Regions from separate parts of the Homo sapiens genome. Here regions 2 and 3 are each linked to region 1. Evidence: fine-mapped expression QTL. A gene starts in region 1. Each other region holds a variant in brackets. All regions are shown on one strand. Distances are between the middles of the regions.

The links. PIP is the estimated chance that this variant, and not a neighbour inherited with it, causes the effect.
Region 2: its variant is fine-mapped to the expression of SCARA3 in thyroid (GTEx, PIP 0.91).
Region 3: its variant is fine-mapped to the expression of SCARA3 in esophagus muscle (GTEx, PIP 0.97).

The regions. Positions count from the first base shown.
Region 1 is chr8:27,631,336-27,636,933 of GRCh38, reverse strand. It overlaps SCARA3 (scavenger receptor class A member 3), which reads right to left and starts at 3,032. Exons shown (of 6, transcript NM_016240.3): 1 at 2,727-3,032. The coding sequence starts at 2,733. RefSeq lists enhancers at 1,740-2,568, 2,569-3,398.
Region 2 is chr8:27,721,117-27,726,714 of GRCh38, reverse strand. It overlaps a transcript of SCARA3 not described here. Among named protein-coding and RNA genes, the nearest start is that of MIR3622B, 22 kb to the right of the region's middle. The variant A/T (reference allele first, on the strand shown) is at 2,940.
Region 3 is chr8:28,012,456-28,018,053 of GRCh38, reverse strand. No RefSeq gene overlaps it. Among named protein-coding and RNA genes, the nearest start is that of SCARA5, 23 kb to the right of the region's middle. The variant A/T (reference allele first, on the strand shown) is at 2,368.

The DNA of each region.
Region 1 (5,598 bases):
TACTTTTTCCACTCGAGTGAGAAAAATCCTGGTTCTTTACACCCCACAGATCCCGGAAGCCAATTATTTGCTGTCTGCCCTGCCATTTCCATCTCTGGTAGAGGGGCGGCTCTTCCCGGCTGCCAGGGAGGGAAGTGCTGGAAGTCAGCCCCCAGCCCCGCAGCCCATGCAGCCCCTGTGATGTTATGGGAGATCACTGAGGGGTTTCCGGAGGCTGGAGGAAAAACACACCAGCGCCGCCCTCAGGGCCTCCGTAGACAGGAATCCCGCTCGGCACATGAAGAGGCTGTGGGATCCAAGGGAAAGGAGGAGAGAGGCAGGGCTTGGCTTCCTGTATAGGAACCCACAGCACAAGGAGAGCCTGGAACCCTGCAACGTGGTGTCAGCGGGTCCTCCTCAGGCACCTCTTTTTAAATATTCATTCACACCAGCTCTTTTCTTCTCTATTTCACAGGATTTTGGCCCTGCCTCTTTTTTTAAATAAATTCTATTTTTTTAGAGACAGGGTCTCACTCTGTTGCCCAGGCTGGAATGCAGTGGTGCAATCATGGCTCATTACACTTCAAACTCCCAGGCTCAAGCGATCCTCCCTCCTCGGGCTCCGGAGTAGCTAGAATTACAGGTATCTGCCACCACACCCTGCTGGTGCTTGTCTGGAATTGGGGTGGAGCCACTCTGAGAATGTGAAACATCTCACCACCATCATCAAGGTCCAGGGCAGTGTGGCCCCGTGTAAGATGTGGTCCAAGACCTTTCTGGAGGCTTCCAGTAATGGTCTGCCCTGGGCCAGCTGACTGCAGAGGGTTCAGCTGCAAAGGTGTCTCAGTGAGGAGCAGGACTTGGGGCGAGGCTCCCCTCACTGCCTGCCAGGTGCTCCCTAGGGCTGATTATAACTTGCTTGGCTCATCCCGCAGAGCCTAGGACTTGGGGAGGCCAACGGGAAGCACAGAAAGAAGGTGCCAGAGGCAGAGGGAAGGAAGCCACAAAGAGGCAAGGTGGATTCTAGACTAGAAGTCAGGAGTCCTGGGGTCTAGTCACCCTGACTAACTGTGATTTGTAACAACTCACTTCTGTCCACAGGACCAGCTACATAATTTGTGGGGCCCAGTGTAAAAGGAAAGTGTGTGTGTTTGTGTGTTGGTGGGAGGGGATGACTTGTTAAAAAATTATAAGAATTTCAGGCCTCATGGTGGATCAAGGCTGTAATCCCAGCACTTTAGGAGGCTGAGGTGGGAGGATCGTTTGAGGCCAGGAGTTATAGACCAACCTGGGCAATATAATAAGGCCCCATATCTATCAAAAAAAAAAAAAATCCATGCATGGTGGTGCACACCTGTAGTCCTAGTAGTACCAGCTACATGAGAGGCTGAAGTGGGAGGATCACTTGAGCCCAGAAGTTTGAGGCTGCAGTGAGCTATGATCATGCCATTGCACTCCAGCATGGGCAACAGATTGAGTCCCTATCTCTAAAATAAAACAAAATAAAATACATTTTTAAAAAGTTCAAGATAGCACCTGCAGAGCATTAAACCAAGTGTGGGACCTTGTAGGATGGCACTGGTTGCAGAAGCCATGAAGCCAGCCCTACCTGCTTGGGCCTCAGTTTCCCTAACTATGCAATGCGGAGGCTGCATCCAGTCAGAAGTTTGTCGGTGGAGCCCTTTCTTCCAATGAACCCTCAGGCCATTCTTTGTATGAGAGACAAACAGAGCTGCTCTGGTTGAAGTAGGCTGAGAGCTCTGGCCCCACCTCTTCCACCTCCATACCTGTCAGTGGCACCTGAGAGTGTGGTTGAGAGCCCTGTAGATGATCTCAAAGGCCCTTTTCAGTTTCTACTTTCCATAAGCAGATGAGGTGGTGAGGTTCTCACTGCTAGGAACACAAGCATCTGCTGGGGGTGTTACAGGAGGATTACTGAAAGACACCCGAAATGGCGTTCAAAACCTCGGAGGTTCCCTGCCTCATGAGATAACTCCAAAGCCTGCTTCTCCTGTAGCCTCAAAATGACCTTGAAGACCAAGTAGGGGCCTAAAGACACCCAGGCCCTGGAAATGGCCACTTGGGATCATGTCTGGTTCTTATTTCCATCCCAAGAACTGGCTGCAAGGGCCACCCTGCTGCTGGCTCACCACCCTGGGGAGAGGTCAGTCCTGGCCCATGGGGCTTCCCCGGCGGCTTCCTCCCAAGGAGGTCAGAGGGTGGGTCAGGCAGGGTTCAGGGGTTGGGAAGGGCAGGGCCTGGGCTGAGGGGCTCTGACACTGCAGGTCTCTTTTGGGGAAGGGCTGGAGGTCCTGGGGGAGAATCCTAGGCCTGGCCCCCGGTTGAAAGGCTCGGTGGGGGATGCAGGGGCCTCTCTGATGGGTCCCCAGGGTCGAAATTTACACTGCTGGAAAGTTGGGCTGGTGATGCCTTTCTGCGTCTACTGGTTAAAGGGATCAGAAACTTCTCTGGATTTTAAAATTATTTGTGAGGTTAGAGCAACGGCCGATGAGAACAGGACTGCAAGGGGGGGTGTGTGAGTGTCCCCATCCTCCCTCTCCTCTTTGCTTCCTCTGGTCTTCAGGGATCCGTCCTGTCTCGCAGGATGCCCAAAAAGGCAGGGGAAAAGCCAGAGGCGCCCTGCCCTCCTCTCAGCCTCGCCTGCAGAAAAGGCGCCCCCCAGGCCCTGGGTGGAGCGGGGGTGCAGGCGGCCCCCCTCGGAGCTGCCCCCGACAGGCCGCCCTTACCTTTCATGGTCTCTTCCTCTGGGGCCTCAGGAGGGCCCCGCTGCAGGCGGCTGGAGCTGTAGTGGAGCCGGGCGGCCGGCGGATCCTCCAGGGCGCGGATCGCCGTCCTAGGCGCCGCCCGCGGCCGTGGGGCTCCGGCCGGGACTCATGCTCCGGCGCGCGGGCTGCGGAGGCGGCGGGAGGAGTGGAGGGTCCCGCGGGGTCGCAGCCTGGGGAAGCCCCGCCGGGCGCCTAGCGCCGCGCCCCGCCGCCCAGAGCGCGCATCCCGCCGCCGCCCGCGCTTCCCGCTGGGGCCCCGCGAGGTCTGCCGCCGCCCCTCGCCCCGCGCACCCTTCCTCCCTCCCTCCTTCCCGCCTTCTCCTCTCCCTCTCCCTCCTTTCCTCCCTCGCTCGCAAGCCTCCCTCCCTCCTCGTCACTTCTTGGGCCCCGGCCCAGATCAACTTCCTTGGTATTTTCAAAACTGCCGCGGCCGGCCTCTTTGTGCCGCCGCGGGGGCCCCGCGCCCCGCCTACCTCGCCCGTGCGCCCCCGCAGCCCCACAGCCCAGCCTCGAACCCGGGCTCCCGCGGCGTCCTCCCTGCCCGCGCTGCGGCCGCAATGGGGGGGCTCACCGGGAGAGCTCCTTGATCTTAGTCCATTTCACTATCGGGACCGCCAAGTGGCTGGGGCAGGGGTGGGGACCCCAGATTTTAGCCCTGCACGTTTTTCTCGCCCATCTTATGATGTCGAGGGCCTGGGAGAAGGACGTCCGGGAGAAGGACGTCCGCACATTTTAGTACTGAAAGTCCCGTGTCCAGGGCAGACGTGGAAGGTTGGCCACCCTGTGAGCACCCTGGCTCTGCCCCTGGCGAGCTGAGTGACTTTGGGCATCCAGTTCTCATCTCCAAGCCTCTTCTTTCTACATGAGAGAATTGGGCCTGGAGTGCGCCACATTCTGTGATTTATTTTTCATTTTTATTTTTTTGAGGCTCTAGCCATCTAAGCTGGAGTGCAGTGGTGCAATCTCCGCTCACTGCAACCTCCGCCTCCTGGGTTCAAATGATTCTCCTGCCTCAGCCTCCCGAGTAGCTGGGATTACAGGTATGCACCATCCCGTCCGGTAATTTTTTTTTGTATTTTTAGTAGAGACTAAAAATGTTGGGGAGGCTGGTCTGGAACTCCCGACCTCAGGTGGTCCACCCACCTCAGCCTCCCAAAGTGCTGGGATTATAGGCCTGAGCCACTGCACCTGGCCATCAAATTCTGTGATTTTGTTGGTGGAGGGGTCTCTGGGGTAAACAGTGACAGCCAAGGAAAGTGAATGCAGGCAGGGAGTTGAGACTGGTCATAAGCGCCACTCAGGATTCTCACGTGTCATTTTTCATTGATTGAACAAACATTTACCGAGCTCCCAGCTGCCGGCCAGGTCTAGGTCCGCTGTCCAATCTGCCCACCCTGCAAGCTGCCCCTGCAGGTAATCAATCAGGTGACACGGGTTTTAGAAAAGAGAAAAAAGACTTATTGGCAAGGGCACCAAGAGAGGAGGTGGGAGAACAGCTCTCAAATCCACCTCCCAGAAGATCAGGCTTAAGGATATTTATGGGTTAGGGAAGTAGAGTGGTCTAAGCCATGGGGAAAGGCAATTGGCAGTGGGGACAAATGAAGAAACAGGTTCATTCCATGCCAATGTAGTCTGAGCTAATGGTATTTCATAGGACATATATGCAGAAAATGGCAGGGTTAGCATGATCCAAGGGTGGAGTTTTTTGGCTCTCCGACATTGAAAGCCCACCTCTTGGGGCACTTGCCCAGTTGAAGGGCCAATGGTCTCACCAGTTTGAGATGGACAGGAGCTAGCCCAAGTTCCTAAAAAACAACTGAAGAGATCATTACCATGGTGGCCTATGAATGTTACCTATAAAGTAGTGAATGAAGGTTAAGTTTCAGTGTTCAGTGGTGTAGCCTTCAGCTTCATGGAAAAAAGAAAACAAAAACAAAAACAAAAACAAAAAAAACTCACCAGAAAAACAAAAAGCAAGCAAGCAACCAAAAGCAAACAGGGCAGCCAGACTATACCAAAATGGTTTCGCTACAAGGGACCAGGCTCTGCCCCAAGCTCCAGAAGTGTGAGGAACATGTCACATGGCCAGTCTGGTTAGGAAAGCCAGTAATTAAACAAGCAGCAGTGCAGAAGTGGGATGAATGTTATGAGAAGAAAAGTGCAGGGAGAAACGGGACCACAAAGTGGCACAGGCCAGCCTGGTCTCTTCTGATGCCACAGTCAGCACCATCTCCCCATCCCCAAGCCCTATTTAATGCTGAAGTAAAGTAGGTGAGACCCGAGGGGAAGAGAAAGTGTCTCCTAAGCCTGGAGTAGAGAAGAGGACAAGGACAGCCACCCCTGTCTGTAGATCCCATCAGATCAGCAAGGGTGATGCTGTGTTCTCTCTAATCTCCATTTTGCCATGGCAAATTTACAGTTTGCGAAGTCCCTTCTCTCCATGATCTCAGCAGAACCTCACAACCACCTTGAGAGGGGGATCCCAGGGACTGTGCTGCCCATTTTACAGATGAGGAGACTGAGGTTTAGAGGGGGCATTGCCTGCCTGGTGACAGTCATGTGCTCCTGTCACCTGTATCTGGGTTCCGAGTTTGCCGCATGATCTGAGTCTCCCACAACTAGGGCATGGATCAGGAGAGCTGTTTTGTAAACCCCAGGGAGATAGTCACCTTGGAGGTTACCTGTATGCTAACTTATTTACCTTGGAGGTTACCTGTATGCTAACTTATTTACCTTGGAGGTTACCTGTATGCTAACTTATTTAATCTTCATGTCCGCTCTATGAAGTAAGCAGCATTATTGCCTTCATTTTTCAGATGAGGAAACTGAGGTA
Region 2 (5,598 bases), 90 kb before region 1:
TTTTTATTTTTTTTGAGACGGAGTTTTGCTCTTATTGCCCAGGCTAGAGTGCAGTGGCACAATCTCAGCTCACTGCAACCTCCACCTTCCAGTTTCAAGCAATTCTCCTGCCTCAGTCTCCCAAGTCGCTGGGATTACAGGCGCCCGCCACCAAGCCCAGCTAATTTTTTAAATATTTTTAGTAGAGACGGGGTTTCACCGCATTGGTCAGGCTGGTCTCGAACTGCTGACCTTGTGATCCACCCGCCTCGGCTTCCCAAAGTGCTGGGATCACAGGCATGAGCCACTGCGCCTGGCTGTTGTTTTTAAGAGACAATGTCTTGCTCTGTTGCCCAGGCTGGAGAGCAGTGGCGCAATCATAGCTCACTGCAGCCTTGAACTCCTGGGCTCAAACAATCCTCCCACCTCAGCCTCCTGAGTAGCTGTGACCACAGATGCACACCACTACACCCAGCTAATTTTTAAAAATTGTGTAGATGCAGGTCTTGCTATGTCACCCAGGCTGGTCTTGAACTCCTGGGCTCAAGTAATCCTCCTGCCACGGGCTCCCAAAGTGCTTCTATGTTTCCTTTGTGCATGTCATGCACAGGTTTCATAGACTCATAGCCTGTGGAGGTTGGAAGAGACTTTAAGGGTCATCTTAGCTGACCTAACTGTGACCTCTGCGACTCCCTAAACAGAAGACCTAAGCCTGGGCATGAATGCATCCAGAGACGGGAGCTCATGACTCACAGTGACTTCTACCTGCTGCTCTGTCCTCTGGAGCCACACAGTACAAGTTGAATTCATCTTTTCATGTGACAGTTTAAAAAGTTTCAAGACAGCTGTCAGCTGCCACCTGTGACTGCCCCTAAACATCCCATTCTCTGTGATCCAACGAGACAGCAGGAAAAGCAGGCATCTGCGGACAGAGGATGGCTTCTGACATCCCATGGGGCAAGACCCCCCAACTCTTCCCTGTTTGGCTTACTCCCAGGGAAGGAGCAGCTCTTGAACTGTGCATGGTCTCCAGCCATGACTCCAGCCATGAACCCAACCATGATCCCAGCTGGCCTGCACAGGAATAGGGTAGAGACAATTCTCCAAATGTAGCCTAGACACCTGACTCTGACTTACACCACCCATTAAATCCCCTGTCTTTTCTGCACTTTGTATTGATTAGATTATTCTGGTTTTTTTTTTTTTGGAGGGGGCAGTGGTTTGGACCATGGTATAGAACTTTAGATTTATTCCTTAAAATTTCTTTTTACTATATAATGTAACAAACACACAAAAGAGTGTATGAAAAGATATGTTCATTTTCAAGGATAATATAAATATAAATATAAATATAATATAAATATTATATGTTATATTTCTGAGGTTAGGAAATAGAGCAGTACTCACCCATCCTTCCTCAAAGTCCCATTTGCACCCTTTCCTAATCACATGCCTGGCTTCCCCCCAGCTCTCCTGAATTTTGTGATAATCATCTGCTTCTTCTTCATATCTTTTATCTCTGATGTGTATTTCTATAAATAATACACTGTTTAGTTCAACCTGTTTTTGTTTGTTTGTTTGTTTTAGAGACAGGGTCTTTCTCTCTTGCCCAGGCTGGAGTGCAGTGGTGCAATCACAGCTCACTGCAGTCTCAAGCTTCTAGGCTCAAGTGATCCTCCTACCTTGGCCTCCCAGAGTGTTAGGATTACAGGTGTGAGCCACCACCGATTCTTCCTATTTTGAAACTCATTCATGGAATCTTATTGTAATGTTTTTTCTATGACTTGCTACTTTCAGTCAATATTATGTTTTGATGAATTTTCTCTGTCAAAGACATCTAGTTGGAATCTGCCTATTGAGTTATTTATGGTTCTCATTATTTCCTTGAACATAATTCCTTTTACAAATATATGTACATGTTTGTAAATATTCCTTCTATATTGTCACCCCCCAAAATTTGGAAGAATGGGATAGGTCTCAGAATAGTGCCTTCAGCAAACATCCCTTCTGACTGAGGTTAATCCATTACTTAGCACTCTTTGGGCACACTTAACCAGTTTTTTGTTTGGTTTTGTTTTGAGAAGGAGTCTTGCCCTGTCGCCAGGGCTGGAGTGCAATGGTGCGATCTTGGCTCACGGCAACCTCTGCCTCCCGGGTTCAAACGGTTCTCCTGCCTCAGCCTCTCAAGTAGCTGGGATTACAGGCACCTGCCACCACACCAAGCTAATTTTTGTATTTTTAGTAGCGACAGAATTCATGTTGGCCAGGCTGATCTCGAACTCCCGACCTTGTGATCTGCCCGCCTCGGCCTCCCAAAGGGCTGGGATTACAGGCTTGAGCCACTGTGCCCGGCCACACTTGACCAGTTTTAATCCTCCTGATTTTACTTTAATCTGGACTATATTCTCCTACTTGCTCACATGGTTGTCAAAAAACAACCTTGCTTTAGAGCCAGATAAAATATATTTATGGCGTCTTCCTGATCTACCAGTCTAGCAACCCTGCCAAAAATAAAAAATAAAAAAGGAATGAGGCTTTGAGAACTTGTATTGACTCCTAGTAATTGCTGTACTATTTTCTAAATAACATAAAGCAGCCCTTTGGTTTCTATAATTTTGCCTGTGATTGATGGCAAGTCATCAAGCCGAGAGTTGTGGGAATTCACTGTTGACCTCTGGAAAATAAGAACTACCCTTTCCAGGCCAGGTGCAGTGGCTTGCGCCTATAATCCCAGCACTTCGAGAGGCTGAGGCGGGTGGATCACTTGAGGCTATGTGTTCGAGACCAGCCTGGCCAACGTGGTGAAACCCTGTCTCTACTAAAAATACAAAAATTAGCTCGGCATGGTGGCACGTGCCTGTACTCCCAGCTACTCGGGAGGCTGAGGTCGGAGACTCGTTTGAACCTAGGAGGCAGAGGTTGCAGTGAGCTGAGATCGCACCGTTGCACTCCAGCCTGGG[A/T]GACAGAGCGAGACTCTGTCTCTGAAACAAACAACAAAAAGAACTGCACTTTTTGATACCTAGTCTTGCTTTCCATGGTTGCTCAAAGTTCACAAATAACACTTGAGAAATCTCCACTGACAAGTTTTCAGTACCTGGGGTGTCCGTCATCTGGGCCAGGAAGCTAGGAGTTGGAGAGGACAAGAGGTATTTTTAGTACAGAGAAGGGATCGACTGGGACAAAGCTCTTAATGATTGGCTTCCAGAACGTGGTAGATGAAGTAATTTGTAAGAAATCAGCAGTCGGAGTGAGATTAAGACTCTAAGGATGAAGGGGAAAGATTGAGACAGTCAGTGCGTGACGAAAAGCTCACTCTTACAAGAAATGAATCAGAAGGTTGCCAAAAGGAAGTGGTAGAGTTAGAACAATTTTGTAGTCGGTCCATTTAGCATGGAATGATAACTTTCTCCACCTGCCAATTCGGAGCCAAGGAACAGGAGAGAAGAAAGAAAACAAGATAGCCCAGGGCTGTGGATGCATCAGCTCAGGGGTGAACTTCAAGGAGTTCAGGTCATTTGTGGGGCAGCATCAGAGGGGCTGAGGGGCTCCAGGCCCCGCAAGAAGGAAATCAAATATATATTTTAAAAATGTATGGACAGGTGAAAATGGGACAAGTAACGTGATTGGGGATCTGTCCAAGAGATAAGTGGGTTATGGAAGGAAAGGGAAGCCACCACCAAGTATGAGACTAAGCAGCAGATGCACAGCGTGGTTGATGTTGGGATGTATTCTGGGGAAGCAATGCTGCCTGCTGCCGAAGAGGGAGCCCAGTGTGCTGGTGGGAGGGAGAGATGGGTTCAGGTGGGGCGGCCATATCACCTGAAGTCAGGGACAAGTGGACCTGGTGCCGGGGTCACTAGGAGAAAAGGGATACCCTGTTGGAGAAAGTAACAGGACCAGATGGTGTGACCTTCAGTGTCAATGGTGGGTAACAGTCTGGGGAAGCAGCAGAAAACAAGGCGTGGTTTCCTACTTGGCCATACAATGTTATGGTGAGGGGAGATGGATAGGAGAAAGCTGCTTTGGTTAAGGAGAAAGGCTAAGGAGAAAAAGGCTTGAAAATGAATGGAAATTTGCAGTGATAAGGCTGGGGATAGTAGGGCTTTCTGACAGCAGCTCAAGAGCCATTAGAGAATGGGTCTGAGGCCAATGGCCAGGGGCAGAGCACAGCAGAGAACTGTGGGTGGCTTTTGGAGAAGACATGTTGTGGATACTATGGATGGAGGCACGAGGGTTTGGAGGTCTGTGTGAGGGCCAGGGGTGATCTTGTTGAAGCCTCACAATCATTCTATGGGGTGAATCTGACCTCTTTTTTTATAGATGCAGAAGCCCAGAGTAGCTGTGAACATGAACCATGAGCTCTCTGTGGGCAAGGCTGCCTGTGTCTTCATGCATCTTCACATCTACAGGAGTACCTGTCCCAAGTGTGGGAGTCTGTGCAAAAGGACAGTTAGTCCATTTGCACAATACTTGCAAGCTTTTCAGGAGCATGCAAAAAATGTATGAGACCTTGGAAAAATGTACTGGCTTCTAGATTCAAATAGAAACCACAATCGAATACATATTTAATTAATGTCTACAAATGTCATGCTACCATATCATCCTTACATCTAGATTTAGCATTCATAAATATTTCATTTCATTTAGAGACAGGATCTCACTCTGTTGCCTAGGCTGGGGCACAGTGATGCTATCATTAACTTACTGCAGCCTTGACCTCCCAGGCTCAAGCAATCCTCCTACTTCAGCTTCTTGAGTAGCTGGGACCACAGGCGCATGCCTCCACTCCTGGCTAATTTTTGTATTTTTTCTTTTTTGTAGCGACGGCATCTCGCTACATTGCCCAGGCTGGTCTCAAACTCCTGTTTGAGAGTTTGGCCAAGTGATCCACCTGCCTTGGCTTCCCGAGGTGCTGGGATTACAGGCAAGAGCCACTGCACCTGGCCTTATTTCATTTTAGACTTGTAAATTGGAAGTGCACTTTGATTACTGAGGAATCATGGTCATTTGTAAACTGGGTTGCTCAAAGCCAAACATCAGCATTATCCCTAAGTTAAGGGTGAGTTCCAGGGTCCTGGGTGTTCCTGGCAAGACCCCCATTCCACCTCAGTCTCACCGACACCATCTAACTTGAGGCCATTGGGATGAATCTCAATTGTCTTTTATCACTCTAAAGGCCAGAACCAACCATTTAAAAACCCTTGTTCATGGACAATAAACCAATCTTGCCTCATTCTTTTGTTCTTTATATTTCTTGCTTTATTTTTATCCATGACATTTATCTACCATACTGTATATATTTTCTATCTATTTGTTGGACTCAACCCCAAATAAGTTCCATAAGACCTGAAATGTTTGTTACTTCTCTGTCCCCAATGCCTAGAACAGTGCCCGGTTCATAGTAGGTACTCAATAATATTGGTTGAGTAAATAAAATTTTTGAAAGCAAAGTCTCTAAAAACTTCAAAATTTTACAGCAAATACAGATATATATGTATATTTATTTAATGCATAATATGAGTAAATTTTATTGCATTTGATGTGAGGTGGAATAGAGCTTCTAAAAAAGTAAGAAGCTTGGATGTTCTTAAAATGGCCTTACTCATGAAATGAGGGAGG
Region 3 (5,598 bases), 380 kb before region 1:
CCTAGAGCAACCACTAGAAAAACAAGAGAGTTATATCTAGCAAACAACTTAAAGAGATAAAATGTATATTTAAAATGCTCAAATAATCCAAGAAAGGAAAGAATAGGAAATAAACAAACGATAGAAGGTACAAACAGAAAACAAATAGCCAGATAGTAGATTTAAATCCAATCATATAAACACATTAAATGTAAATGGTGTAAAACACTAATTAAATAAGGCAGAGGTTACCAAGTTAGATTTTTTAAAAAGAAGCCCTCAGTATATGTTGTCTGGTAGAAACCCACTTTAAATATAAAGACATAAATATGTTAAAAGTAAAAGGATGGAAGATAGATATTTGTAAATACTAATCTAAAGACAGAGTTTCTATATCAATATTAGACAAAGTAAATTTCAGAGCAAGGAATATTACTAATGATAAGGAGGATCATCACTGCATAGTGATAAAGTGGTTAATTCATCAAGAGGACATAATAATCCTAGTTATGCACCTAATAAGTTTCAAAATGCACAAAGCAAAAGCTAATAAAACTCAAAGGAGAAATAGCCAAATCCATAATTATAGTTGGAAATCTCAATACCCGCTCTTGATAACTGATAGAACAAGTAGAAAAACTCAGTAAGGATATTAAAGAATTGAACAGTGTATCAACTAACTTTACCTAATTGAGACTTATAGAATACTCTGTAATCAACATCAGAGTGCACATTAATTTCTAGTGTACATGGAACATTTACCAAGATAGACCATATCCTGAGTCATAAAATAAGTCTCAATAAATTTTAAAATATGGAACTCATACAGAGTATGTTCTCTGACCACAGTGGAATTAAATTAGAAGTCAATAACAAAAAGAAATCTGGAAAAGTCTTCAAATATTTGGAAACCAAACAACACACTTCTAAATAACCCGTGAGACAAGTGAGGGCTGTGGACTAAGATCGTGTTAGATTTATATCTCTCTGCTCCAAATCTTAGTTTTCACCAAATAAAATTACCTCCTTGGTATCGGAAGCCAAGGAGTTAACTCCAGCCAGAGCTTAGAAAGTCAGAGCTGGCACTGGCAGTGGGGCTGTGTGTTAACTGCCTGAAGAATGCAACGCAGAGCTGTCAGTCAGGAAGGCTGCACTGGCAGAGTGGAGCAAAAGGGGAAGAACCTGGGGCAACATCTTGAGTCCTGGTGAGAGGCTTCAGGCTGATACTGACATAAATCCAGGACAGAAATTCAGACCAATGCAATAAAAGAAGAAAAACCTCAAAAGCCAAGGGTAGAATCAAGAGGATTCAGGAACCAGAAGCAGGAGATTCAGGATAAAGGGCTGCTGGATCAATAGGTTAAAATTGCGAGCAAAAGTCTTTTGTTGTGATCCTTAATGTGCCCCAAGGGCTCCGTGGTGAGTTTGAAGTCCTAGCAGGTTCATCTTCCCAGGAAAGAGGGGTGGACTGGCTAGAGTGAGAGAAGGTTGGGAGGTGGGCAGGATTGTGCCAGGGAAAACAATGTTTTTTTGAAACACAGCTCTAAATGACTACACAGTATTTTCCTATATACACGTGTTATTTATTTATCCTTTGTGCTATTTTTGGACACTTAAATCATGCTGTTTTTCTCCATTGTAAATAACATCATAGAGAATATGCTTAGATATAAATCTCTGTCCCTAGCTCTGATTTTTTTTTCTTTTGGATAAGTTTTTAAGAATTCTATTACAAGGTCTGAGTCTAAAAGCATTTTAAAGTCTCAAGTTGTTTTTCAGAAACACTGTCCATTTACGAGCAGGGACGAGAGTTCCTGTGTCACTGATTCCTCACCAAAAGTGGTTGTTATCCTTTTCTGCAGTAGGTTAATGGGATGAGATTTTAAAAAGTACCACCTTGCACTACTTGGTTTGTTAGTGGTGTTGAACATTTTTCCTATTATTTGAATTGCTTCTATTTACTTCTTTTTTTTTTTTTTTTAACTCCTCTAGTTTCTATATGAATTGCTTCTATTTAAAGGGTCCTTCCATGATCTTTTCTTTTGGAGTTCCCCATCACTTTCTTTTGATATTTTTCTTTTTTCTTCAAAAGAATTTCAAACTTACAGAAAAGTTGCAATAATAGTACAAAGAACTCCTACAGACACTGTATCAACTTGTTGACATTTTGCTACATTTGCTTTGCTGTATCATTCTTTGCCTGTCCGTGTGTGTCTATTTGTGCATACTTTTTGTGCATACTTTTTCTGAATGATTTCAAAGTAGGTTGCATATGTCATGTTCCTTTATCCCTTAATGTTTTTGGGTATTCCCCAAAAACAAGTACACTTTCTCACATAACCCTAGTATGATGATCAAATTCAGAAAATTCAACATTGATTATGGGTA[A/T]GATACTATCATTTTATCTATAATCTGCATTCAAATATCATCGGTTGCCCTAGTTATAGCCGGTATTGCCAACATTTTCCAGTAGAGTATCCAGCCCAGGATGCTGTGTTACATGTATTTATCACGTCTCTTTGATTCCTTTAATCTAGAACATTTCCTCAGCCTTTCCTTACCTTTCATAACATGGACATTTTTGAGAGGTACAGGCCAGCTGTTTTATAATATGTGGGTTTGTCTGATGTCTCTTCGTGATTGGGTTTAGACTATGCATCTTTGGCTAAAACAACCTCATCAGTGCCCCCTGTCCCTTTTTCATAAGAATAATAATAAAAAAACACTGACAGCTTGACAATGAGGGAGGAAACTAGAAACTAAAGACCCACACGGTCTATCGTGGGTGCAGAGAAGAGTCCCTCACTTTCTGCCCTGAGGGGTGATCTTTTGTAGCCCAGGAGGTGAGTATGCAGGGCAGGGAGGTTGAGGACAATCAGTGACAAGTCTCTCAGCCATTTGGCCTGGAATATCGCCTGTTTATGGCTTCCAGGGGTCAGGGTGGCACGACCAAAGATATTTTTTAAGTGTGGGTGGAGGAGGGGAGAAATGGGGTTGACGCTTAACTGCATTTCAGCCTGTGGCAATCAGGAAGCAAATACCTTCCCATCTCAAGCTTCTCTGTCTCCCTAGTCTGGCTGAACCACCGAAGGGCCAGGTGGCTGTTTCCCTGCACAGCAGGGGAGGACAAGAGCCTGGGCCCTTGTGGCTAAGGAGAGGAATCTCCCAGGCTGAGACCTTCCAAGGCTATCTTTCTCCTGACCGCTCACTGTCTCTGCTCCTAACAGCCCCTCTGCAGGTCTCCTGCCCGGGATCCCCACGCCCCTTGCTTTGGGAACTCTACCCTTCTCCATCTGTCAGTGGAAAACTCCAGAGCTCAGGCTTTGGCCAAAAATCAGTGGAGACCCTCCTCTGTCCAGGTTTGTCAACTCTGACATGGGAGAAATGGACTCTAATCCCATGGCTTCAGCATCTCCAGCAAGAACTGTGGCTTTGTAGGTTATCTGTGGGCAAGCACATCTCTCCAAAGCAATTATTATTATCATTTAGGACACAACACTGCCTCGTCCTGTATGAGGAGGGCTTACTCTTGGACCCTGTTTCTCGGCATGATCCTGCTAAGGGGCCTCTTCTCCACCCTGTTCCGGGCTGATATCACTAAAGCCACCACTTAAACAGAGATGGGCCCTGTCTTATCCATCTCCACGGGGTGGTGCAGCTTAGATAAATAACAGCTTAGAGTAGCTCCTTTCTGATCCCCGGTCTCTCCCTTGGGAGATGCCACTTTCATCCTGCACAAGTACCTTACAATCATCATAAATGGTGACTCTTGCTCATTTCCAATGTTAAATTATAACCAATAAGCTCTGCTTAAGAAAGGAGAGGAATGATCCTTGTTGAGGACACATCATCCAAAGTGTAATAATAAAAAGCACCAGATGACATGAAGGAATGTGTTGTCTGTGGAGCATGGCTGTAAGGCTGGTTAATTGAAGTGTTATTATATTATTAAAATACAACATCAGCATCTCCATGCCAAGGAGAGCATTGAAAAGAGCGCCATGTTATCATTTGCTCTGAAGGCATCATACCATGTGCAGGCAGCGTTAGCAGCTGACCTTGGGTTCTTCCTTCATTCCTTTTCCCTTTCTTTCCATTCCAATTGAACTGCCCAGAATAAGATGAGTTTGTGTCTTTTTCTTCTGTCTGAGTACCACCCCATAACTCAATACACCCCACTTATCTCAACCACATACTGTGATCTGATTAGGGACAAAGAGAAAATTGATATTGATCTCTGAAATCTGGATGGGACGGCATTCTAGATACCCTCTATGATCAAAACCATGTTAAGTCTATATTTTCAAATCTTGCTGCATTGTGTCTGCATTCTAGATACCCTCTATGATCAAAACCATGTTAAGTCTATATTTTCAAATCTTGCTGCATTGTGTCTATAAAAGTTCTTTCTTTTATTTTTCCCTCTGGAAGAAACGTGGATTCTTGATGCTGGAAAGAGGACAGACAAGTTGACGGGTTATATGGCCATGAGCTTTTGTTATGGCACCACTGGGGAGGAAAGGCAGATGTTGCCTCAAGCTAGAAGACAAGAAAAGGCCCTGTTTAGCTGGTAGGGAGGAAGCTGTCACTGCTGCCTGAGACTCAGGGCCCAAGGCAACTGCTTCCTCTCTCTCACTGTCTCTCTCTCCTTGCCCCTTCCCCCCTCCCATTTTTTCCTTCCTTCTCATTCTCCCTCCCCCTCTCTCTTCCCCATGTCTCCCTTTCTCTCTCCCTCTCCCTCTTTTCCCTCTTTGCCCTCTCTCTTCCCCCTCTCTCCCTCCCTGTCTCTCTCTTTCCTTCTGTCCTTGCTCCCTCTCTTCCTCCTCTTTCCCTCATTTCTCTTTCTCCCTCTCCTTCCCCATCTCTCCCTCTCCCTCTCTCTTCCCTCTTTGCCCTCTCTCTTCCCCCTCTCTCCCTCCCTGTCTGTCTCTTTCCCTCTGTCCATGCTCCCTCTCTTCCCTCTCTTTCCCCCCTTCTTTCTCTATCTTTCTCCCTCTCTCTTCCCCATCTCTCCCTTTCTCTCTCCCTCTCTCTTCCCTCTTTGCCCTCTCTCTTGCCCTTTTCTCCCTCCTTCTTTCTCTTTTCTTCCTTCTCTCTCTCCCCCCATCCTTTCTCTTTCTCTCCCTCTCTCTCCTGTCTCTCTCTTTGCCCTCTCTCTTCCCTTCCCCTCTTTCTCTTTTCCTTCTCCATCCCTCCCTCCCTCTCTCACTTTCTCTCTCTCTCTGTCTCAGAGAAATCAAAACCTGTGGTAAAAGAAAGAAGTTTATAAAAACCTGGTAGAATTGTTGAAAACTCTGGAACTACTAGTGTCTTAGAAAGAGTTCAAGATGAGTTAAAGATTCCTACTCAAGCCCAGTTGGGTGGAGCCAACATCAGAAAGCAGGGATTGATGACAATGGAGGATTGTGCTTAGCCACACATTTCTTTACACCTCACTGAGACTGCTCCATTCTTATAATTTTGATAATGGCATTTATTTGCTGTATTTGTGTGTATCTTAGGGCATAGTTCTCAACCTCGGTTGCACTTTTAAAGCAGTTGGGAAGCTTTTTGAAATCCTCATGCCCAAGTGGATCCCACTCCAGACACCAATATCAGAATCTCTGGGAGTAGAGCTCA